4 linked regions of the Homo sapiens genome follow. The protein of the gene in region 2 interacts with the protein of the main gene of each other region in a pairwise test. Each region holds a gene or a part of one and is shown on either strand. Other genes may lie near its edges. The genes, in order: TCAP, HIP1, ZNG1C and WDR31.

Region 1 (5,809 bases), on a different chromosome or scaffold from region 2:
GCAGCTAGGTTGGGACATGAGTCACCACAACAGCTGCAGGGGTCACAGAGGGGAGCCTGACCCCCTAGCACCTCCAACCTTCCCTGGCTTCCAGGGCAGGGGGTGTGGAGCGAGACACAGCTGAGGATTGATTCTGTCTGGATTCAGAACTGAGAGGCAGGTTAGTTTTAGAGGTCACTGACCCCGTTCACACCCCGAGGCAAAGCCAAGGACAGTCCTGGCACCAGCCCCTCCATATTCTCCACGAGACATCATTGAAACAAACCCTGGATGCGGATGCCAGCTGGCTTGCTGGTTACCACCCAGTGCCAGGGGGCTGGACACAGAAGCCAGGACTGGGCAGCGGTCAGGGTACGGGAAGGAGACTGGAGACAGCACCCTGTTTACAGCTCTGTCCTGCCCCCACCCCCACCCCAAGTATGGGGTGTACCCATTAGCTCTGCCATATTTAGCTCAGATGCGGAGCCTGGTCCCAGAAGTGGGCATTGAGGGGACACCCATGGGCCAGCCCCCCCAACCACAAGGAAAGAGATGCAACTCTGGCACATGATTGAGCATTTATTGCGGCACTAACAGAGGGTGCTGGGGGCCCCACCATCCTTGCCTCTGCCCTTTTCACCTCCCCCTCCCTCCCAGCTTCTTCTGCCTAGAGCGTTCCAGATTCCCCTCACATTTTCCTGGATCAGGGCCACTCCTCCCAGGCACCTCTTGCCCTCACCAGTACCTTTTGTCCCTTCTCCTGGGGCTGAGGGTCCTCAGCTGTGCTGGCCCCCAACTCTCCACCCTTAGTGCCCACTGTCTCTGCCACCCTCCCTTTGGGAACTCAGGGGGCTCAGGCATCCTGGCCTCTGGCTCCCCCCTCCCCTAGCCCCCAACTCTGGGCAAACTACAAAGCAGCCATGGCCAGCAGCTCCCCTCCACAGTCCTAGCCAGGAAGGGCCCAGCCCAGGGCGGGCACAGCGGAGCCCAAGTCACAGTCCCTCTCAGCCTCTCTGTGCTTCCTGGGACATGGAGCGGGACAGGGAGCGACGAAGTGCACCGGGCTTGCTGACAGGCACCACAGGGGGCAGCTGCTTTGTGATCTCAGCCACCTCCTGGCGGTCCACACACTGGCCACCCAGGGCTGTCTCCAGCGCCAGCAGCTCCTGAAGCTGGATGGGGGTGTCCTCACGCTCCTCCTTGGTGGCGCCCATCTTGGCAGGGGTGAAGATGGGCAGCGGCAGTACCCGCTGGTAGGGCAGCTGGTACTCCTGCAGCCCACGGCCGAGGATGCCCATCCGCATCATCAGCCAGGGCGAGCGCTGCACCAGCACCTGGCACTGCCCCTGCTGGTGGTAGGTCTCATGTCTCTGGGTGTCCTCCTCATGCAGGGAGCAGCTGGGGAGAGGGGAGGGGCAGTGAGCTCCTGGGAGCTGTTGCTCTCTGGGCACAGGCTGGGTGGGGGGCTCCCCTGGGCTGCTGGGACCTGGGGGCAGGAAGGGTGGTTCCCCTTTGCTCTCCCCATGGGGCATTCTTCCTGCCCCCACCCCCAGAAATTTCTCCAGGGCTTCATGCTCTGGCCTCATGGCTCAGTGAGGGTGCTCTGGGGGAGCAGAGGCAGGGCTCTAGCAGACCCACACTCACCCCTCCTCGGGCCGTGTGGACAGTGTCAGATCCTTCCATTCTGCCCAGAAGGCCTCCCGGCGCTCACAGTTCTCCTCCGACACCTCGCAGCTCAGCTCTGAGGTAGCCATGATCACTCCTCATTCTCTCTCCCCTCCCAGGCCCTTTAAATAGCCCCCTCCTCCCCCTTCTCCAGGGGCTATTTTCGGCCCCTCTGGTGTCAGATGCTATAAGTAGAGCCAAGACTCACTAATGGGGGGACGCCGGACCCAGGGCAGGGGTTGGGGTACCTGGACGCTGGCTGCCCCCCGGTCAGAGGTCTGGGGTCCAAGGTCCTGGGGTCAATGCCTCCAGGTGCCTGACATTACTCAGACACCGTCTCATGCCAGCCACATGCCCAGCCTTGTGCCCCCCTGGCACTTGCCCTCTGCCCCACCCACTCCCCTTTGCAGGGAGGACAGCAGCTTGTCTGTAAACAGAGCAGGACCAGCAGGAACTGATGCCCCCTCTGGGCTCTGTACCAGGGCTGCCAGGTCCTGCCCTGGCTGTGCTCTCCTCTGCCTGGGCTCAAGGGCATATCCCCAGAAGGGAGAGTGCAACCACGTCCTCAGGCGCCTGCACCAAAGGCCTAGTGCCTAGTCCCCAGTCACCCTCACCACACCAGCAGGGGCGGAGACAGTCAACTTCATGCCTGGGAACCTGGGGCATGAGCCTTGGCCAGGTGTTTTCCTTCCCCATGGCCAGTGGTCAGGTAAGTGGTCTTAGGAGACAGGTCTCAGGAGACAGTCAGGCTAGTAGGGGTGGAGGGCCCCCAGTTCTACCCCAACACCTGTGTTGGGTGAAATGGGAATCCAGGGGCTCTGATGGGTGATAGTCAGAAGGCCTGGCTCCAGATCAGCCATAAATAGGCTGTGTGACCATGGGTCAGTCCCTGCCCCTCTCTGGGCCCCTTTCCCCACTTTCTGGCCACTGCAAGAGGACCAGAAGAGCTCTGGAGCCTGCCCGCTCTGATGTGCTACCTGGGAGGGGACTGGCTCTTCTTCATGGGGAGCAGGGGAGACAGATGGCTGTGGGGACAGTCCAGCACCCCAGGAGTAGCAACTCATGGTGCAAGAGGCTGGCAGACAGGTGGTGGGTGTGGGGGGATGAGGAGTGAGAACACTGCCGAGTGGACAAAGGGTGGCAGGAGAGGCAGTGACAGGGGCTGAGCTGAGGACCCTGTGGGGACGGCAGAGTACCCAGGAGCACGTGGGTGCAGAACTGCAGACTATTGATTACTGAGCACTGTCCCCGGTTCTTCATATCTTTTAATCTCATAACAACCCTGTGACATCAGTCCCATTTTCATAAAGTGGGAAGCAGAAGCTGAGAGAGGTAGATTCGCCCAGGGTCACACACCTAGGCAGGACCGAAACAGGATCCACCTGGCTCTGAAGAAGCTGGCTCTGCTGGAAGCCTGCATGCAGGCAGGCAAGGGGGCAGGCCAGCCGGGAGGGAGGAGGAAGGCAGGCAGTGGCCTGGCCCCGCCCTGCGATCCGGGCTCCAGGCCGCCCCTGGTGTGAGTGCCGTGCGGGGAGAGGGAATGGGTGAGTGGAGTCTGGGAGGTCCGGGGCTCCAGGTGGCCTGGATCCCAGAGGTGCCTCAGTGACCCTGAAGCTCAGGCCCCATCTCCAGGCCACACAGTCAAGGCTTGCTGTGGGCACTGCCAGGTGCCCATACCCCCACCTCCATTCCTGGACTAGAGACTTTAAACTTGCCCCGCTGAAGCCTGGCAGGGGGCGGGGCATTTTTTTCTGACCAGTCATCTGCTCAGTTGAACTGGTCAGGAAAGCGGGGAGTGGGGGGTGGGCGGGGGGGGAATGGGGGGCATGTTTCAGGAACTGGCTCCCCGGGCTCCGCCCTCCTGTGAGCCCAGGAGAGGCTGTGTGAGGGGTCTTCCCTCTTCATCCAAGCTGCTGCCTGCCTTTCTCTTCCCTCAAGAGGCAAGGCAGTGGGAGGGGCTGGAATTTTTTTTTTTTTTTAAATTCATGTTTTTAATTGGCTTAATACAAAGGTCCCCCAGGAGGCCCTGGGAGGAGGGGGACAGCCTGGGAGAGGCAGAGATTCATGGCCAGCAGCCCACCCCCACCTGCCACCCACTCCCCAACAAGGGTCCCAGACTCTTTCAATAATCCTAAAAAAACCGACGAGAGCGCAGGCAGATGAAGAGCCCCTTCATCTTCACACGGGTGACAGGCTGCCCTGCCCTGCCCAGGGCCCTGGTCCTCCCCAGCCAAGTCAGGTGCCCAGCCCAGACCCTGCCCTGGCAAGGTGGGGCAGAGCAATCTGGTCCTCCAGGAGGCAGGGCGCCATGTAAACATCAACAGGCCAGACCCCACTTCCTCCAGCCAGTGGGGCCCCGGAGTCCAGTGCTCCACCCCACAGCCTGCTCAGTCAGTCAACTCCAGGCACTGCGTGGCTCGGTGGAGGGTGACAGCCTGGGGCCAGGTCCCATGTGGGCAGTGCGAGCCCAACTGGCACCCTTTCTGGCTCTGGAAGTGGTGGCGACAGGACCCTGGCCCGCAGGGTGGGAGGGGGCACAGTCACGCCCGGGCCCCCAGCTCGCTGATGCGCTGTCGCAGGTGAAAGGCAAATTCAAACATGGTGGCCGCGAGGCTCTGGTGGATGAGGTACCGGGGCAGGCGGCCCTGGGGGAAGGCAGGCAGAAGTCACACTTGATGGCCTGCCCTCAGCAGGGTCTCCCCTTGCAGCTGGCACCAGCAGGGGGGCTCTGGGCCAGAATGCAGGTGCAGCTCTGGAATCCAGCCTGGGTCGCCCTCTCCCACTCACCCCTGGCAGGAAGAACATGCTGGGCCTGGCTCTTGGCACCAGCAACACAAACAGACCAGGGTGGGGCCGGGCTGGCCACCAGCCACCCTTCCTCAGGGCCTCAGGACTCAGAGGTAAGAAGGGGGGGCACATGCCCTACAGCAACCCAGGGCTAAGAGACCATCTGGACCCTGACCCAAATTTTCAAGTAAGAAAGGTGGCTGACAAAGGGGAGGCCCAGGCATGGCAGAGAGCCCCCAAAGTCATGCAGCAACCAAGTCAGCAGCAGGGTCCCCTCCACTCCACAGAACCCACCTGGCAGCCCCCCAGCACCCCACCTTGAGATCTGTATTAAGAATCCAGACAAAGGTGCAAACACGGGGGTTACTGGCCGACTTGAGCACGATGAAGCCCCCAGGGCCATTCTCTCCCCTATGGAAAGAGGCATCATTGGGGGGACTTTGGAACAGAGTGAGGCCCTGACACCCCCCCGCAGCCCCTACCACTCACACTCCATTCTTGGCCCAGCTGGGACTGGGCTGGAAGCAGAAAGGCAGAGCTACCCTATCTGAACAAGGCTTAGCACAGGTGTCCCATGGGCTGCAGAATCGGCCCTCCACCCCCACCCACTCTGTGATGCTTGAATCCTCCTACAACGGCCTGTTGGTGCTTGCACACCCCCAGGGACAGAGAGCTCACCACCTTCCCAGCCCTCATACACTCTGTCCAGAGATTCTAGGTCAGCCCTGCTATGGCAGAGTAGGCTGGGCTGGCGCTTCTTACCCCTTCCCCTTCAGGAGGGGACACCTGCTCAGGAGAAGGCTAAGCCTGGGAGGCACGGTTCACATCCCATCACCATTTCATTCTCCCTCAGCTCCACTGAGCACACCTAAGCCCATTCTGCAGATAAGGAAGTTGGCATCCAGAGAGGAAGTGAGCTTCCCTGCACCCAGCAAGTCTGTCCAGTGCCCAAAGCAGAGCCTGGCATCCTATTCAAAGAACAGTGCTCCTGCTGGAACCCAGGAGGGGATGGGGAAGAGTGGGGTCTATGGGAGGGGGCCACCCGCAGCACCACAGCCTGACTGGACAAAAGGGAAGACTCCAGAAGCCCAGGCACAGATGCGGGAAGGCCATAATCCCTTTATCTTTGGGGGAACTCCTGAGCCACTCCAGAGAAAGATGACGGAGTGAGGACAGGGTGAGGAGGACGAAAGGGGACCCGAGTCTCCTTAGGCAGGAAGATGAAACCCAGAGCATAGAGCCTCCTGCTCAGGTCAATCAGCCCAGAGTGAGCACATGGCTCTCAGGCCCCTTCCCTGCACGGGTCCCCATCCATGGTCTACCCCAGCCAGCCACCGCCGCACATCCCGTCCAGCCTTGGTGGCTTGGTTCCAGCTGT
Region 2 (7,038 bases):
AACTCCTGCACTCAAGTGATCCTCCCACTGCAGCCTCCCAAATTGCTGGGATTACAGGCATGAGCCACCATGCCCAATATCAAACTAATATTTCTTTTTTTTTTTTCCTTTTTGTGGAGAACAGCTTCTCACTATATTTTCCAGGCAGGTCTCTTAACTCCTGGGCTCAAGCTATCCTCCTGCCTCTGCCTCCCTAAGAGCTGGGATTACTGGTGTGAGCCACCACACCCGGCTCAAAACTAATATTTCTAAGATATATTCCCAGAGGTGTGGGGCTAAGTGGATTCCATGAACCCCAGGATACAAATGCAGGCTTCTCACTGGAGCCTATACCTCAGAGCCACGCTGGCTGGTCAATCACCACCACGCTCCATTGCCAGGCGGAAATATTTATTTGAAAAATTGAAAACACAGATGCAATGTATTATACAAAGAAAGGTCTTAATACCATAATAAAAGTATTGTTGGAGGGAAACAGAAGCCAGTGGCCACCTGCCCTGGGAAGGTAGGCACTCAGTGAAAAATGAAATTCATTTCAAGGAACTACCCTAATGGAAACCCAGGGGAAAGGTTAAAAACAGAAGAAAAACAAACCCAACCCTATCCCTGCAAACTGAAATGTGAAAGAGTCTGTTATAAGTTTGAGACAACTGCATTATCACCAAGATGTAACCGAACCCCCTCGGTTTGTCCCTATGAGTGGTAATCAGTTTCATTTAGGGCCTTCAAACCTGAGGTAGTTGAGGGTCACCTGAAAGACATGTCTGGAAAAATCTACTCTCAGAATCGAACCCAACAGCATTGAATTGTTTCCTGTTGCTTTGGCTCCTGACAACACCACGGTGTGGTGCTGATCTTGTATTTGGTCTGGACCTGGGAGAGGAAGGAATTTGGCAGCAAACAGCTGGCTGGTTTGCTGCGCCGATGGCTGGCAGGTCCGTGGTGGTGGTTTTCTATGCTACAGGTGGTGCAGTCTCTGGAGGACAAGGATGGCAGAGAGAGGGCAAAGCCAGTTTGCTTGGAAAGCCAATGTTGGAACTGGAGGCTTTCCCTGGCAGGATTTCCAGAGATTTGGAAAGGTGGTAGAAGGTAGCAAGATGCTGACCGGTTATTAAAGACCAGGGTCAAATGGAGCCAGGAGACCCCTCTAGACTAAGGAGCTAAGAGGGAACTTCCAGCTGCAAGCTGAGAACTAGCTCCTGCACAGGGTCGAGGGGCCAAAGCCAACTAATCTGACCGGAGCGACATGTACCTGTGATTCCCGTGTTACCTGGTGGCATAAACCTTGGTGTCTGACTTGGTAGCTGGGACAGTTCCAAGAAAAGTTGCTCTAGACAGTGGTTCTTCCAGCCACTGGGTTAGAGGGACCCGTATTCTGGTGGGATTTTAGGGGTACTGCTATGGACGGCTGCATCAGCAGACAATCTAAACTAGTCTCATTTAAACTCCTTGCTCAGATATAAAATAACCCTGCCAAGATGGCTCTTCTCTTCTATTTCTTTCTCTCTCTCTCTCTTTTTTTTTTTTGAGATGGAGTCTCACTCTGTGACCCAGGCTGGAGTGCAGTGGTGCGATCTTGGCTCACTACAACCTCTGTCCCCCGGGTTCAAGTGATTCTCCTGCCTCAGCCTCCCCAGTAGCTGGGATTATAGGCGCCTGCCACCATGCCCGGCTAATTTTTGTATTTTTAGTAGAGACGGGGTTTCACCATGTTGGCCAGGCTAGTCTTGAACTCCTGACCTCAGGTGATCCACCCGCCCCTGCCTCCCAAAGTGCTGGGATTAAACGTGTGAGACACCATGTCTGGCCTCTTTCTCTTATGTAAACAAACATCTTTTCTCTAGAGGTCTCAGGGCACTGTCTTACAAACTTAAGTAACAGATGCAGCTGTTTTTTAACTTCTTGTCGATCCTAAGCCATGATTTTGTTGCTGTCCCATCTTGTCATGACCCATTTACGCTCACCCGAGACTTGTCACTAGTGATGCTCAGTGACTCATTTAGAAGGCTTGCAGGTTCATTTTTAGCTTTAAGATGTGATTCCCGTTTTAATCCAAGGTGTGTCATTAAATAGCTCTTCATCTTCATTTTTAGAAGAGTCACAATAGGACAATTTGATTTTGTCTAGAGAATGGGGTAGCCATTCTAATCTGAGCTATTACGAAAGTAATTATGTGACATCTGACAGCTACTTCCTCATGTGACACTGAATTAGCCTCTGCTTCTGTTTAAGTGCTTTCTTAACCGTTATGACTCAGGCTAAGTCGATGAAGTTTTTAAACATTTCTGTGGCTTCTTTTTAGAGACAGGATCATTCAGATAATTTTTTGTTTGTTTTTAAAGAGATGGAGTCTCGCTCTGTCACTCAGGCTGGAGTGCAGTGGGAAATCATGGCTCATTGCAGCCTCAAACTCCTGGGCTGGGCTCTGACACAGAATCTTTTTTTTTTTGAGACAGGGTCTCACTCTGTCACCCAGGCCGGAGTGCACTGGCACAATCAGGGCTGACTGCAGCCTCGACTTCCCAAGCTCAAGCAATTCTCCCACCTTAGCTCCCCAACTAGCTGAGACTACAGGCATGCACCATCATGCCCGGCTAATTTTGTTTTTGAATTTTAGTAGAGATGAGGTCTTGCTATGATGCCCAGCCTGGTCTCAAACTCCTGAGCTCAAGCAATCATCCCGTCTTGGCCTCCCAAAGTTCTGGGATTACAGGCATGCGCCACTGTGCCCGGCTGGGCAGAGAATCTTAATTTGATCCATTACACTAGACTGTTTGCCCCATTTGTAATTTTTTTTTTTTTTTGAGACGGAGTTTTGCTCTTGTTGCCCAGGCTGGAGTACAATGGCGTGATCTCAGCTCACTGCAACCTCTGCCTCTGGGGTTCAGGTGATTCTCCTGTCTCAGCCTCCTGAGTAGCTGGGATTACGGGCACCCGTCACTACGCTCGGCTAATTTTTGGTATTTTTAGTAGAGATGGGGGTTTCACCATGTTGGACAGGCTGGTCTTGAACTCCTGACCTCAGGTGATCCTACCACCTCAGCCTCTCAAAGTGCTGGGATTACAGGCGTGAGCCACTGTGCCCGGCCACCCCTTGGTAATTGGGAACATATGAGTTAGAATGGCTGAGATCTAGAAGTGAGGACTAGCCACTTTTGGAAATGTTGACCCGCATCAAGAACACACCGATTGGTTTAGTTGCCACAACTGGGACAGGGAAGCCACGCACCATTCCTTCTGAGCCTTGAATCAAAAAAATACTAAGCAGAAAGCAGCATTCAACATTAAGACTGCCCAATTTCTAGTGCTGATACTTCCTTAGCCCAGTATGGAGGTCACACGTCTGAGTATGGTCATCCGAGGTCCTGGGAGAGAGTTTTTTGAATGTCCCACTTAGAAAATGCACAGAGAGGGAGTTGGGGAGGGGGGTGGGCTAGGGAGATGGGGGTTGGTTCACAGTGATCAAACAGAAGTCTCACAACCCGTCATGTAGCAAAACCTAGCAATATTCTGTTGGAGCAGATCCTGGGAAGTGCTTGATGGCTACCACCAATGAGTTGCTATAGATAAAGAAGGAAGACGCTGTTTTTCCAAGATCAGAAGGTCACTTAAATGCTGGGGTCCATCTAGAAGAGGAAAAGTGCTGTTGGGCTGCCCATCCCTGGCAAGCTGTTCATGTGCCCTCTGTCCTCATCCTGTCCACAGGGCAGCGAGAGCCTGGGGCATGTGGCTGAAAGGAGTTGGAGCCGCTGGCTCTGTCCTTTCTCATTTTCTCTGACCCAAGAGCTCCAAATGATCTCCTTGCTTTGGGATCCAAGTCAGTAACAGTCCAGCACCTTGGCCTTTCTTCTGATTCTTGAAGGCTGATGTAGCCGGGCAGAAAGATGAGCCTTGCTAGAGTCACACCTGAAGTTCTGATTGCTCCAAGCATCTCTTTGTAGGCTGTTGCTGCTTAAGGGAGGTTAGTAATAAATACTAAGGGTAGCAAACCAAGTATAGGGTTCTTCCCTGATGGGAGCAATTGCATCTGATCTTCCGGGTTTGTCAATTGCGTAGAAGGTGGAACGATCTTCCTATTCAAGAGGATGCCAAGGCAGACGTCTGCAGAAAGGAGTTGGGAATCACTCCCACACTCCGTCTCTGGGCCAAGGGAGACGGCCCGCTTGACAGAGACCATTCACGGACAGTTCATTCCGGCAGGGAAGTAGTGTTGTTGATCTCACCAGCTCCATTCAAGCATGTGATCAAGTTTTTGAGCCTCGTCACGGGAACTGGGCTGTGTGAACCCTCTTGTCCCTCTTTCTGTTGTCTTCTCCCTTGTAAAGGCGGACAGAGGCTTTCCGCCGGGATTCAGCTTTAGGAGGGAAAGGCACTCACTCTCCTTCTGCTTTTTGAGGAAAGCTGTCACTCAGCAGCTCCGCCTGACCCTGGAGCATGGACTGGGTGGGCCAGCACTTGGTCAGTGTGGAGGCGGAGATGGAGCACCGAGAGGCCTGGGCAGCACCATCGCTGGAGCTACCACAGTTGGGGGGCCCTGGAGACTCAGCCCCAGGGGTGTGCCCTTTGGGAGAGTTGGCTATGTGAGTGAAACTTAAAAAAAAAAACAAAACCAAAAAACCCAACCAACCACCATAAGAAGCAGTGGAAATCCATGGCACTGCCCAAAGAGGGGGAGAATGGCTTTGGCATTCACAGCCAGGACACTCCTGCCGTCCTTCTGACTGTGCAGATCTCAGGGTAGTGTCCTGGTTTGGAATCCATCAGCCCTCTGATGCTCACAAGTTTGTGCAAATGATGAAACTGAAAAGACTGAGAAGAAAACAGAAAAGAAAAGGCATAAGATCTTCCCTTTCCAAGCTGTCAACAAACAACAAGCAGCTCCTCTATTAAGGATACCCATTGTTGTGGGGGTCAAATAGTCAGCAGGACTGGATGTTGGTCCTCTCTGTTGAGTGGCCCTGCCCCCCACCACCCCTCTTCGTACCTAGGCTTGCTCATGGGCAGCACTGGCCAGCCTGGATGCTAACTAGGGAGGCGGGAAAAGAACAGAGATGACCATGGGTCCAAACAGAAAGGGTGTCGCTATGGAGGGAGTCTTTGGAAGTGTCATGCATGTCCTCGGCACTGGGTAATGGCAGTGGTGTGGCTGCCCCTGGGACTCCAAGGATTTGGCCTGTGGCTGGGGAAATAACACACACGAGATAGGTAACAAGGATTTACACTGACATATGGGGTGTTGGTTTGGCTCTATTCTTTTTCGGTTACCACTTCTTGCAGTGTAGGTGGAGATGCCTCTGTTCCTAAAAGACAATGATAATTTATGTTGCAAAGCACTCATGAATGCATTCATTCACTTAACCAACAAAACCTGCCACCATGGGGGCTCAAAAATACATTATAATTATAACCATGGTGTAATCACATAGTCCCCAAGTTTCGTGTCTAGGAATGACTAGGATCTGTCTATGGTTGGTGCCCAGAGTCAGTCAAGTCCACTAAGAGTGAACAGTCTTGGCTGTGATCAAGTTGACTGCTTTCGACATGCAGACAACAACATATAGACTCGAGGTGATGGATGGCAAGTCTCTGGGCTGGCAGCCTGAATGTGACTCCATGCCACTCCATTTCTCAGCACCTGATCCCTTCTTTTTTTTTTTTTTTTTTTTTTGAGATGGAGTCTCGCTCTGTTGCCCAGGCTGGAGTGCAGTGGCGCGATCTCGGCTCACTGCAAGCTCCGCCTCCCGGGTTCACGCCATTCTCCTGCCTCAGCCTCCTGAGTAGCTGGGACTACAGGCGCCCACCACCACGCCAGGCTAATTTTTTGTATTTTTAGTAGAGACGGGGTTTCACCGTGTTAGCCAGGATGGTCTCGATCTCCTGACCTCGTGATCCGCCCGCCTCGGCCTCCCAAAGTGCTGGGATTATAGGCGTGAGCCACCACGCCCGGCCTAGCACCTGATCCCTTCTGTCTTTTGGCAATTGTTGCCCTTCACTGGCTCTAGATAGACAGAACCTTGTAATTCACTTGTCCCTGTCTGCCAGATCTCGACTGACCACTATTTATTCATTTTTCAACTCTCTGCTGGCCAGAAACTAAATTCCCAGGGAGTTGGCAAGGCTAGCTGGGCCTGGGAGGGAATGGCAGTGAGTGAGTTATGATCAATGTTTAGGTCTTAAAAGGTGACAACAAAAGCTTTCAAATCACCATAACTTCACCCAAAGTTAGGCTTAAAGGTTATTTACAACGGAAGAGAAAACAGGTTCCATGAGGAGAGAAGAGAAGGAAGAAGCCACCGATCTGGTGGGTTCCTTGTTCTGTTCCATTCTAGGGGAAGGCCCTGGCCACACAGCTTCCCCTCCCTGCTGCGGGTTAGTGCCCATCCTTGGAGTCAGCTTACCTTCTTCCCAGCCCTCAGCAACACCAGCAAGCTCGTAGTGCTTTTTCCGAAGCTCTCCCAGTTTTTGACGCTCCTTCTGCAATTCATTTTCTAGCTCTAGCACCCTAACCTGTAAGGGAAATTAAGTGGGATTTTCTCTTAATCATCTCTCAGAGATTTAATTTTTATTTATTTTTTTATAGAGATGGGGTCTTGTTCTGCTGCCCAGGCTGGTAGTGAACTCCTGGCCTCAAGAGATCCTCCTGTCTTGGCCTCCCAAAGTGCTGAGATTACAGGCATGAAACACCATGCCCAGCCTACATCTATCTTATTTTGATTACTCCCTTTCTGCTGCATTGTGAATTCCTCTTCTTCCATATTATTCACCGTTTCCATACTTTATCTGGCCCTCAATTTCAATTCTCTTCTTTGCTCTAATTTTTCCATTCTCCCATTCATTTATCTATCCCAGTAGCTCTTATGCTTTACTCACTGTGATCTTCTACTGGAAGTGAATGATGCTTTACAAATGCCTAAATGGTAGGTGGGCTTATCTTCTGTTCCTCTGAGAAATCACTATCTAAAAACAACTCTAATGTTTAGCCTAACTGTATGGTGAGTACCAATCTAGTTGTAACCCTTCTTCAATCCCAGTTCCCTA
Region 3 (7,648 bases), on a different chromosome or scaffold from region 2:
TTATAAATATTTACAAACACTCCTACAAGTTGAAACAGTTTCTTCAACCTAGCCTAACCTTCCCTAAAATTGACACACAATCTTTTATTTATAGTGACCTTTTATTTCAACATTAACGAGACGCAACTTCAGGCTGACTATATGGCTACTTATAGTATGCTTTAAACAATCTATAAAAGTTTTTATGAAATGGGGAATAGAGCCAGGTAGTGTCAACAATGAACAGAATGTTCAGTTAAGATAAATTCATAAAGCTATACCAACTTTATCCAGCAGGTGGCATATGAAACCCAATATGTCAATCTCCAGTAGAAAAAAAAGTCTTGTGAACCGTACACACTAAAATTCATAGAGGAAAAAAAGAAAATCCTAACTGCATAGTATTGTAGTTCAATTGTATGACTATATCATTTCTTTATCTTTTTTTTTGTTGGACATTTGGTTTGTTTCCAGTGTTTTACTATTACAGTGCTGCTAAAAACTTTTACATGTAGGCTATACATGTCTTCTGAAATAAAGTTTTCTAGTATATAACTAGATCTTCCTACAACTAGGAAGATTTTACGGAGTATTAGGGTATTAATATCTTTTAGGTCATATTCCTTTCAAAGCTTTTTAAGAGATGAAGGCTTATATTTAGAGTACTTTAGGAAGCTCAACATCACAAAAATATGAAGTATAGTATGGAAGAGAGAGACTTAGGGCAATGAGGAAGATCTTAAAACCAGTCCAAGCCTGAGACAGAGGCCCTGAACATGAGTGTTTCACAGGGCAGTGATGTGAAAACTGAAAGGAAAGGGTGAATGTAAGAAATCTTCTAAGAGAAGATTTACTAGGGCTTTTTAACCATATTATGAAAAAAAAAAACACTTTAAGACATAGTTCATTCATTCAAAGGTTTCTAATACGTTACAGATTTATGCTGGGCCTTGGTGAAAAAGTGAACAAGATAGTCTCTGCCTTCATAGAGCTTAGAAATATTAAGGGAAGGGGGGAATGGAGGGGAATTCAGTGAATAAGGAGGCAATTATGTCACAGGGTGACATATTCAATAGGAGATGCACAAAATGCTATGGAGAACCTAAGAGGGACATCTAGCCAGAGGAGTCACAGTAAAAAAGTACCTATTCCAAGGGGCTAAAACACTTGGCACCTTTGAAGTAACCTTAGTTTATTGTGCGGGGCCAATTTGGCAGGCTGGAAAGGTTGGCAAGATCCAGATCCTACAGGTCCTTGTAATTCATGTTAAGGAATTTGAATTTTAACCCATAGGGACGCCACTGAAAGGTGTGACGCAGTCGGATTGACATTTATAAAGATCATTAAGGCTAACATGCAACGAATAAATTAAAGGGCAGCAAGACTCCAGATTAGTCAGGAGGCTTTTAGAGTATTCCAAATGGTTGGGATCACAGAAGCAGGATTTGGGGGGATGGTAACAGACGAAGTTTCAGACATGTTAAGTTTTAAGTTGTAGGACATCAAAATAGAAATTACACAGGTGTGTAGCTAAAGATGGACAAAGGGGGAAGGAGGAGGGAGCCTTAAAAAGAAGCCAGAGAAGCAGGTGGAAAAATCAGAAGAAAAATGTAATAGAAGCCAAAGGAACAGTGTTTCAAAAAGGGAAAATGGTCAGGGATAGGAGTGAAACTATCCCTAGATTCAGCAACAAGGTTGCTGGTATTAATTCTCACTCCTGAGCTTCAGATCATTTTCTCCAATGATCTACTGACCTACCAGTGAGCAACACGGGAAAGGCCCGAGGGGCACGTTTGAAATACATTGTTTTGGACAAGAAATTTGTTCATCTTCTCAGTAGAGCAGCCTCTGAATAACTGTGGGGAAACGCCAAAAATAAATTCCTTTATAAAATTACTTCCGAGCAAAAAACGGGAATAAACTTACAGTCTACAAAGTTTTTAAAAAAACAAAAGCAGTTATTTCTTATTTTTACATAAAAGGTCACGAAGTGGCCCAAGTCTGTACCTGTCTCTAGCAACAACTAGGAATATTATTTCCCGGAAACAGTATTATTTTATTTACATTTCTTAACTTTTTCCAAACTTCTAATACAGTCATATATTTGTTCTAGCCCTTCTATTTAACTGTAAGGTTTAAAAATATATTTCTCAAACTTTTCCAGTAAGAAACTTCTAGTGTAAGTGCATAAACCGCCCTTCACGAAACTACCAAGTTCACAAACTTGTGGTTTCGAGTATCCCTGTACACTCTAAACGTTCTTAGTTTGAGAAATAGTCTTGGAGGACAGAGATTTTATTCTTACTTCCTACGCAGTGGTTTACAAACAGACCTCAAAAGAAAAGTGTTTAAGATAGGAGCACTTCCTGCCAACTGGCTGGAGGACTTTGGCTCCTGGGGAAGGGGAATCTGCTGACGAAAGCCCCACGTGTCGGGCATTTTACAGACGGGACATCCTTTAATGGCAATAGGTAGGTTGTTCCGGCCCTATTTCACAGGTGACAGGTATTTTTCCATTTTCAGGTGAGGTAGATGAGCGTCAGGAAGGTAAGATAACTTGGTAAGAGGTCACAGAGACAATTAGGGGGGCGTGTCTTAGCTTCAAAGCCTTGTTTCAAAGGCTAACTTTCCATCTCACTTGAGAAATGGGAATCTAACGCAGAGGGGACCGGGCATCATTAACTCCCAAGATGAGAGGTAACCCATACGAGAAGCAAGTGACCCAGCCCCTACCTCAAAGACATTTGCTCTTGATCATGAGGCCCCAATGCCTCAGGAGAAGAGGCACCGGCAGCCCGCAAAATCCCATGACACCAGAGTTCACGGCATTTTGTGACTGGGATGGTTAGTTACCTAAATACCCGGTGATAATTGTGACTGGGATCTTGGCGCCGAGGCCAGACTTTTCCTCCTCCTCGCTTTGCGTCGTCTCAATGGGAACCAATTCAGGACAATCCTCCTCCGCAGGATCCTCTTCCTCATCCACAGATCCAACAGCCGGTAACATTCCGGCCTACAGCACGTCCCTACCTCAGCTGAACCGCTGGGACCAACACGCCGTACCGCAGCCGCGCACGCCCAGCACGCCACTCCCGGCCTGGCCGGGGCCTGACGTCATCACATCGCGACGCTAGCTGATCCCGCCCGGATTACCTGGGCTCTGGACGAGAACTGCCTCGTCCCTTAGCCACACCCCCCGGGGAGGTGGGCTCTCCCCGACGACAGCTGGACACGCCCCTGGGCGTGTTCTGTGAACCTGAGCGACGCTGCGGAGAGTCCTTAGGGCGCACTAACCACCTGTCTGAAGGTGTCACTGGCGCCTAGAGCCTTAATAAGCTACTGGCTGTAGGTAGAGCTGAGGCCAGCCTGCTGGAAATCTGGAGTGGGTAGCCTGACCTAACCAGTTCCCACAGGGCATAGATTTTATCAACTTGATTTTTTAGTCTCGTTAAAAAAAAAAGTTTTAATTCATAGGGGAAAGAATGGAAGGTTATAACATTACAATTTTAATTGTAATTTTTATACCTGAAGGATAACCAGTGACAATTTTTTCTTTTTTTATTATTACATATTATATATGTAATTCCAAATTTTTAGTATTCATGCATCACTTTTATTTACTTTTTTCTCATTATTTATTTGGACCTCAGGTAACCTAAGTTCATTAATCATATTTGCTGGTGCATGACACTCTCATCACTAATCCATAGATAGCCCTTCTTTCTAATATAAATTTATAGTGAACTCCTTTGACCTCATTCCTAACATAAAAGCATTACCAGTAAGCTACACGTACCTATGTGCACCGCCCCCGCTTCCAATCCACAGCCTGCCCCATAAGATAGTAACAACAGTCATGAATTGGTTCTGGATTGCTGATCCTTCCCTGTTTTCTTTTTAGTTTTATCACATATCCCACGTATGTACTTAGAGAATATGTTGTTTAATTTTGGGTGTTTTTGAGCTTCATAAAATTATCCATATAATATATAAACTCCTGAGGCTTGCTATATTTTTCAGCATCACTGCTGTCTTGTATTCTATTGTGTGGCTACACGGCAATTTATTCATTTCCTCTCAATTGTTCCAGGTTTTGCTCTTATGAACAGGGCTGCTATGAACATTTTTCCTGACATATGTGTGTGCAACTTCCTCTTGAGTGTCTAAGAGTTGAATTGCTGGGTCCTAGATTATTCAAATGTTTTACTTCACAAGAAAATGCACAATTATTTTTCAAAATGTTTGTACAAATTGATACATTTTCCCAGCAAATTATAAGAGATCTCATTGGTCTGTATGTCAATATTATCAGGCATGCATTTTTCACCAATCAATTGAGTACAAAAGAAGACTTCATTGTGATCTTCATTTGCATTTCCTTGATTACTAACAAGGTTGAGAATCTTTTCATGTGTTTTGGCAATATGTAATTCTTAGAATGACCCTGTAGAGTGTTATCCCTCTTTCAAACATGAGGCACCAAGAGTTAAGTTACTTGTCCAGGTTAGGTCATAAAAATCTATCTGATGCACAAGTAGAATGTTTTACTACTATCCTGATGCCAAATAAAAGGTTGACTTTTCCTTCCTTCTCTGAAATTCCCCATAAAATATACTGTGTGTATTCCATTAGTTCTACTGATAAGTACATATAACTTGAAAGTATTTATCACGCCTTTTGCAGAACACAGTTAAGACAGAGGGTTTATATTTGTGCAAATGAGTATATTATATTCACACATACACTCGGTCTGAGAAATCAGGTCTTGAATGCTTTGCCAGCTTTGACAATGTAACCATGAACCAGCTGAGGAAGAAATAAGGCAAATACCTTAGGTGTGGTGGTTCAGTTCACTGTATTCTGCCAAAGGAGAGAAGCTGTGATGGGTAGCCCAAAATAGATAGCTTACGCCCTAAACACAATGGTTCATAAGCTTTTTCGTTTCAGGAATGCTATGAAGTATTGATTTTTTTGGCAACCTAAGGGAAGGAGTAACATTGCACCCACAGGCATCACACTATTTGCTTGATGTCCCTTCAGCACTGCATTACTGCCTGAATAGCAGCTATTACAGCCCTCACCATCTTCTTTGACATATTTTTAAAAGTACATTCTTGTGGGTTCCCAATATGGCACTGGCTGAATGTTATACTAAAATCCCTCTTTCTGTTTTTTGAGACAGGGTCTCACTCTGTCGCCCAGCATGGATTGCATTGGCACGATCACAGCTCACTGCAGTCCTAAACTCCTGGGCTCAAGTGATCCTCCCATCTCAGCCTCCCAAGTAGCTGGGACTCCAGTCATATGCCATTACATCTGGCTAATTTTTCTTTTTCTTTTTGGTAGAGACAGGGTCTCACTATGTTGTCCAGTCTGGTCTAAAGTCTCATCTCTAACAATGAACAACCTGTAACCTATGAGGCCAGCTCAGTCAAGTTGACCAAATAGCATTGTTGTAACAGTATGTAGCCTCAATGAGAGCAAAATAAGTTTTACACATTGGCCAAAAATTAAATGCACCACAAATATCTATCAACTGATAGACAACCAAAATGTGACAAATGGATAAACAAAATATGATCTATCCGTACAATGGAAAATTATTTGGCAATAAACAGGAAAAAGGACTGATACCTGCTACAAAATGAATCAATCTTGAAAACATTATGGTAAGTGAAAAAAGCTATTCACAAAAGACCACATGTTGTATGATTCCATTTATATAAAATAACCAAAATAGGCAAATCTATAGAGACAGAAAGTACATTAATGGTTCCCAGGAGTGGAGGACTGGGGAGAGACTACAGTGGTTTTTGGGCGGTGATGAAAATGTTCTAAAATTGATTATGGTGATGGTAGTACAACTCTGATTATACTGAAAACCATTGACTTGTACACTTTAAATTGGTGAATTGTATCATATGTGAAATTTATCTCAATAAAGCTGCTATTCTTAAAAGAAATAAACACCTATCTGTGCATCAAAATGGGGTGCCTGTGTGCATTTGTAGAGAAACACTGTCTTCAGCAGTTTCAAGTTCTGGCCTTAGGCACAAGTATAAAGATTACAGCTTGATAAAATTTTTCCTTTAGTCTGTTCCATATTCCTCTTCAGTTAAGTTTTTATCTATGGATTCTGTGGAGTCCTGTCATTTTATTTTCTCAGATAGAGTTGTAATTTCAGTTCTCCCAAAATAGCTGGGCATGACTTTTTATTTTTATTTCTTTTTTCTTTTTGAGATGGAGTCTTGCTCTGTTGCCGAGGCTGGAGTGCAGTGGCACGATCTTGGCTCACTGCAACCTCTGCCTCCGGGTTCAAGCGATTCTCCTGCCTCAGCTTCCTGAGTAGCTGGGATTACAGGTATGCACCACCACCCCCAGCTAATTTTTGTATTTTTAGTAGAGACGAGGTTTCACCACGTTAGCCAGGCTGGTCTTGAACTCCTGACCTCCTGATCCATCCACCTCAGCCTCCTAAAGAGCTGGGATTACAGGCGTGAGCCACTGTGCCGGGCTTTTTTTTTTTTTTTAACTTATAAGAGGGTTAAATTGTTAAATTGTTAAATTGAAAATGCCTTTTTAAATAAGTATGAAATTTCTTAATTATAATATTTTAGAATCTATTACAGTTTCTGATGTATCTTAAAAATTCCTCCTCATCTAGCTTTGCTATTTTGTCTCATTTACTTTAGGGTAAAACAACAACAGCAACAACAATAATAATGTTTTGAGCCCCTAAGCATCTGATAGGCACTGTGTTAAGCACATTAAATGCATTATCCCATTTAACTCTCCAAGGTAAATACTATTTGTGTGCCCATTTTATAGATGAGGAAATTGAGGCTTAGAAAAGATAAATACCTTGCTCAAAGTCATACAATCAGTAAATGGCAGCCCTTGGGCTCAATCCAAACCTGCCTGACACTAAATCTCCTGCTCTTTTAAACCAGAAGATCTGCAAACTCTTCTGTAAAACTAGATGATAAATATCTTAGTCTTTACAGATCAAAAAGCAAATTTGAGGACATTGTGTAGGTACTTATATAATAAGAGAGAGAGCAAATGTCTACAAGTTTGAAATTTGAATTTCATGTATTAAACAAAATTATGAGAGGCCATTGTTTTGGACTGAGCTCCTGCACTAATCCCAAGCAGACCAGACCAAACCAAAATGGAGTCGCTCATGCTAAGCACCACAAAATCAAACTAAAACTTTAAAAAACAGGTCCCAAAATAGACGAGTTTTTTTTTTTCTTCTCCTGAAGACAGAAGATTCCAGTATAATAAGGAAGTCCCCTCTGCTCTATCCCTTACAGAAAAGTAACCCAAAGTAACAACAGATTACTTACAAAAAAGCAATCTCAGCCAGACACAGTGGCTCATGCCTGTAATCCCAGCGCTTTGGAAAGCCAGGGCGGGTGGATCACCTGAGGTCAGGAGCTTGAGATCAGCTTGGCCAACGTGGCAAAACCCCGTCTATACTAAAAATACAAAAATTAGCTGGGTGTGGTGGCACACGCCTGTAGTCCCAGCTACTTGGGAGGTTGAGGCAGAAGAATTGCTTGAACCCGAAAGGTGAGGTTGCAGTGAGCCAAGATTGTGCCACTGCACTCCATCCTGGGTGACAAAAAAATAAAAAAGTAATCTGATGTTAACCAATCAGTTTTTT
Region 4 (3,592 bases), on a different chromosome or scaffold from region 2:
CTGGAATTACAGGCATGAGCCACCGCACCTGCCACAGTCTACTACATTACTAATAATAAAGCTGCTCTTTAATAATTATGTTTTCAGAAGGCCATTTGGAAATAGTTTTTATCTCACTGTTGGATTATAAAAACACCAAGTGACCCGAGTTCTACACTTTTCTGTGCCAAAATGAAGAACATTAATAATAAGTATCCATTTCCCCTCAAGTATATATATTTAAATCATAAATATGTAAGTAAATGTATACATTTATTTAAATTTTAAATATGCAATTGGCCAGGTTCCAAGGGCTTATCCACCTTCCTGGAAAAAAATTGTCTTTGGAAAATTCCTTGATATGATTTTAGAGGGCAGCCTCTAAAATGAAGTGTTCAATGAATGTTCAAGGAATGAATGAATTTTAGCAACCTGTATCTTAGGTGCTGAGAGTATCTGATTAGGGCATATCAGACTAAAAAAAGTCCTCTACAAACACTAGAATTTACTAATCTATTTTCTACTTAAAATGCATAGATAATTTGACATCAAGCACATGTACAGTTTATGGAAACAATTTTATTGGTAACAGAACCCTACTAACTCATCAGAGCCCCACTATTTTCTCCCGTGTACTTTCCTTCTCCTGGCAGCCTGTCCCCCTTCCCTGGGACCCCCTCCCAACTCATTCCCGTGAACTTTCTGACTTGCTGCCTCTCTCCCTTCTGGGAAAAAGTGTCAGCTGCTGCACTAATAATCCAGCACATGCTACGACTGTCCCTGAGACAGCTGTCTACTGCCCCTAGGCACTTGGGCAGGGGATCTCCTTGGAGCCAGAAAGTTAATAACTGGTCTTGAAGATACAAACAATGTCATGGTCTATGACTTTGTGACACGATGCAAAGGAAAGCGTTTGGGCTTTGAGTCAGGCAGACCCAGATTCATACCTCAGCTCTTCTTAATATGTGTGTGACTTTGGGCAAAGTACTGCATGTTTCTAGCCCTCAGCTTCCTCATCTGTGAAATGGAAATCACAATACAGAGAATATTGGGAATAACAAATGAGAATAAATATATTTAGCCCTCTGTAGATGCTCAGTGACCGGGCTTCCTCTCCCACTATCTCTTTGTCTTTCCAGAGTTGAAAGACCCATAACAAGGAATCAAAGGAGAGTGAAACGATGACTAAAGGTTTAGAGGATAAGATCTAAGAATGGATGAAGGAGGCCGGGCGCAGTGGCTCACGCCTGTAATCCCAGCACTTAGGCGGGCGGATCACGAGGTCAGGAGATTGAGACCATCCTGGCTAACACGGTGAAATCCCGTCTCTACTAAAAACACAAAAAAATTAGCCGGGCGTGATGGCGGGCGCCTGTAGTCCCAGCTATTCGGGAGGCTGAGGCAGGAGAATGGCGTCAACCCGGGAGGCGGAGCTTGCAGCGAGCCGAGATTGCACCACTGCACTCCAGCCTGGGCGACAGAGCAAGATTCCATCTCAAAAAAAAAAAAAAAAAAAAGGATCAAGGAATGGTAAACGTTTATTTTATTTTATTTTATTTTATTTTATTTTGAGATAGAGTCTCTCTCTGTTGCCTAGGCTGGAGTGCAATGGCACAATCTCAGCTCACTGCAACCTCTGCCTCCCCGGTTGAAGCGATTCTCCTGCCTCAGCCTCCTGAGTAGCTGGGACTACAGGCGGGCACCACCACACCCAGCTAATTTTTGTATTTTTAGTAGAGACGGGGTTTCACCATATTGGCCAGGATGGTCTCGATCTCTTGACCTTGTGATCTGCCCGCCTAGGCCTCACAAAGTGCTGGGATTACAGGCATGAGCCAACGCGTCCGGCAGAATGGTAAATGTTTAATATGGAAAAGGGAACATTTAGTCTGGACAGAGAGGACAATAAATAATTATGGCTACCATTTGTCACCACCTTTCCTGGCATTTACTTATTTATTTATTTATTGAGATGGAGTTTCGCTCTTGTTGCCCAGGCTGGAGTGCAATGGCACAATCTCGGCTCACCGCAACCTCCGCCTCCTGGGTTCAAGCGATTCTCCCGCCTCAGGCTCCCCAGGTAGCTGGGATTACAGGCATGCACCACCACGCCTGGCTAATTTTTGTATTTTTAGTAGAGACGGGGTTTCTCCATGTTGGTCAGGCTGGTCTCAAACTCCTGACCTCAGGTGATCCTCCTGCCTCGGCCTCCCAAAGTGCTGGGATTACAGGTTTGAGCCACTGCGCCTGGCCTTTCCTGGCATTTAAAATAGCTATGTCCAGTCTTCAGAACAGCCCTGTGGCGAGGTATGATCATGAAACCCACGTTATAAAGTGAAGAGGAAACAGATTTTATAACTTGCCCAAGATCATCCAGCTAAATGGAGAAGTGGAGATTCAAAGTCGGGTCTGACTCTTTGTACTAGCTTAAGAACAGACTCTCAGCTGGATGTGGTGGCTCATACCTGTAATCTCAACACTTAAGGAGGCCGAGGCAGATGGATCACTTGAGCCCAGGAGTTTTAGACCACACAAACACACAAAAAATTAGCCAGGTGTGGTGGTGCATGCCTGCAGTCCCAGCTACTCAGGAGGCTAAGGAGGGAGGATTGATTGAGCCCTGGTGATTGAGGCTGCAGTTAGCCATGATCACACCAAGAGAGGGAAGAAGGAAGGTGGCTGTCAGTCACTGGTATCAGAGACAAGCAGAGGACAGAGAAGACAAATGCAAAATCTTTCTTTGGCTGGGACTTGTCAGAAAGGGAATCTCCAGTGTTGGTGATGGTGTCACCAACAGCCTCATGTGCCTTATGTGTGGGCATCTCTGAAGGCAGAAAGAACTCCATTTTCCCTGGAGGAAAATGGACCAGTGAGCATGAGGCTGAGGTCTGACTCCTGGGGGCCACACAGGCAGGCCTGAGCACCTTGCCCCTCCTCACTGAAGGGGGCTTAATGTCTGGGGCACAGTTGACTCCATCCCTCTCTTTTTTCCTGTATGTGGTTTTTTGTTTTTTTTTTTTTCAAGACAAGGTCTCATTCTGTCACACAGACTGGAGTGCAGTGGCACAATCTCAGCTCACTGCAAACTCTGCCTCCCAGGTTCAAGTGATTCTCCCATCTCAGCCTCCCGAGTAGCTGGGACTACAGGCACGCACGTACAGGCTGGTCTTGAACTCCTGACCTAAAGTGATCTGCCTGCCTCGTTTTTCCTGTATGTTCTAATGTTATTTCAGGGATCCCCTTTGCCTCACTCTGGCCATTCCAAAACATATATATGTTTCATTTATATAAATCCAAATGAAAATATTAAAATTGCAAGTGAGATATTTTTGGCCTTAATCTTTGAATTTCAATGTTTTCTTATCTGTAGAGCTGGTGTGCTAACTCCTGTAATTCTGGGCAATGCCCATGTGGTTCTTGGCTGCTTCAAGCCATCTCAGGTCTGATTTTCACACAAGCTCAGCAGCACTGGGCTAGAAGGGTACCGCCCTCCCACTCTGCTGCCACTTTGAATAGAAGTCCAAGCTTTCGCTTTCTTGCCCTGACTTTGATTCTTCACATTGCTGAGGAGCAGTGATTGAAGCTTAATCTCATTGTCTACAGTCCGTCTCCT

The links.
Region 1: the proteins of HIP1 (region 2) and TCAP interact in binary tests that used the Homo sapiens proteins (3 or more experiments, as listed by UniProt).
Region 3: the proteins of HIP1 (region 2) and ZNG1C interact in binary tests that used the Homo sapiens proteins (3 or more experiments, as listed by UniProt).
Region 4: the proteins of HIP1 (region 2) and WDR31 interact in binary tests that used the Homo sapiens proteins (3 or more experiments, as listed by UniProt).

The regions. Positions count from the first base shown.
Region 1 is NC_000017.11:39,661,284-39,667,092, reverse strand, and holds TCAP (telethonin), read right to left. Parts: upstream 1,745-5,809; 5' UTR 1,734-1,744; coding exon 1,624-1,733; intron 1,378-1,623; coding exon 984-1,377; 3' UTR 539-983; downstream 1-538. Other genes in the region: STARD3 (stAR-related lipid transfer protein 3), read right to left, coding at 4,040-4,289, 4,726-4,842. UniProt on the Homo sapiens protein: Muscle assembly regulating factor. Mediates the antiparallel assembly of titin (TTN) molecules at the sarcomeric Z-disk.
Region 2 is NC_000007.14:75,532,925-75,539,962, forward strand, and holds the end of HIP1 (huntingtin-interacting protein 1), read right to left. Parts: intron 6,508-7,038; coding exon 6,399-6,507; intron 5,301-6,398; coding exon 5,248-5,300; 3' UTR 374-5,247; downstream 1-373. UniProt on the Homo sapiens protein: Plays a role in clathrin-mediated endocytosis and trafficking. Involved in regulating AMPA receptor trafficking in the central nervous system in an NMDA-dependent manner. Regulates presynaptic nerve terminal activity.
Region 3 is NC_000009.12:68,237,370-68,245,017, reverse strand, and holds the start of ZNG1C (zinc-regulated GTPase metalloprotein activator 1C), read right to left. Parts: upstream 3,036-7,648; 5' UTR 2,987-3,035; coding exon 2,833-2,986; intron 1-2,832.
Region 4 is NC_000009.12:113,312,684-113,316,275, forward strand, and holds the end of WDR31 (WD repeat-containing protein 31), read right to left. Parts: 3' UTR 539-3,592; downstream 1-538.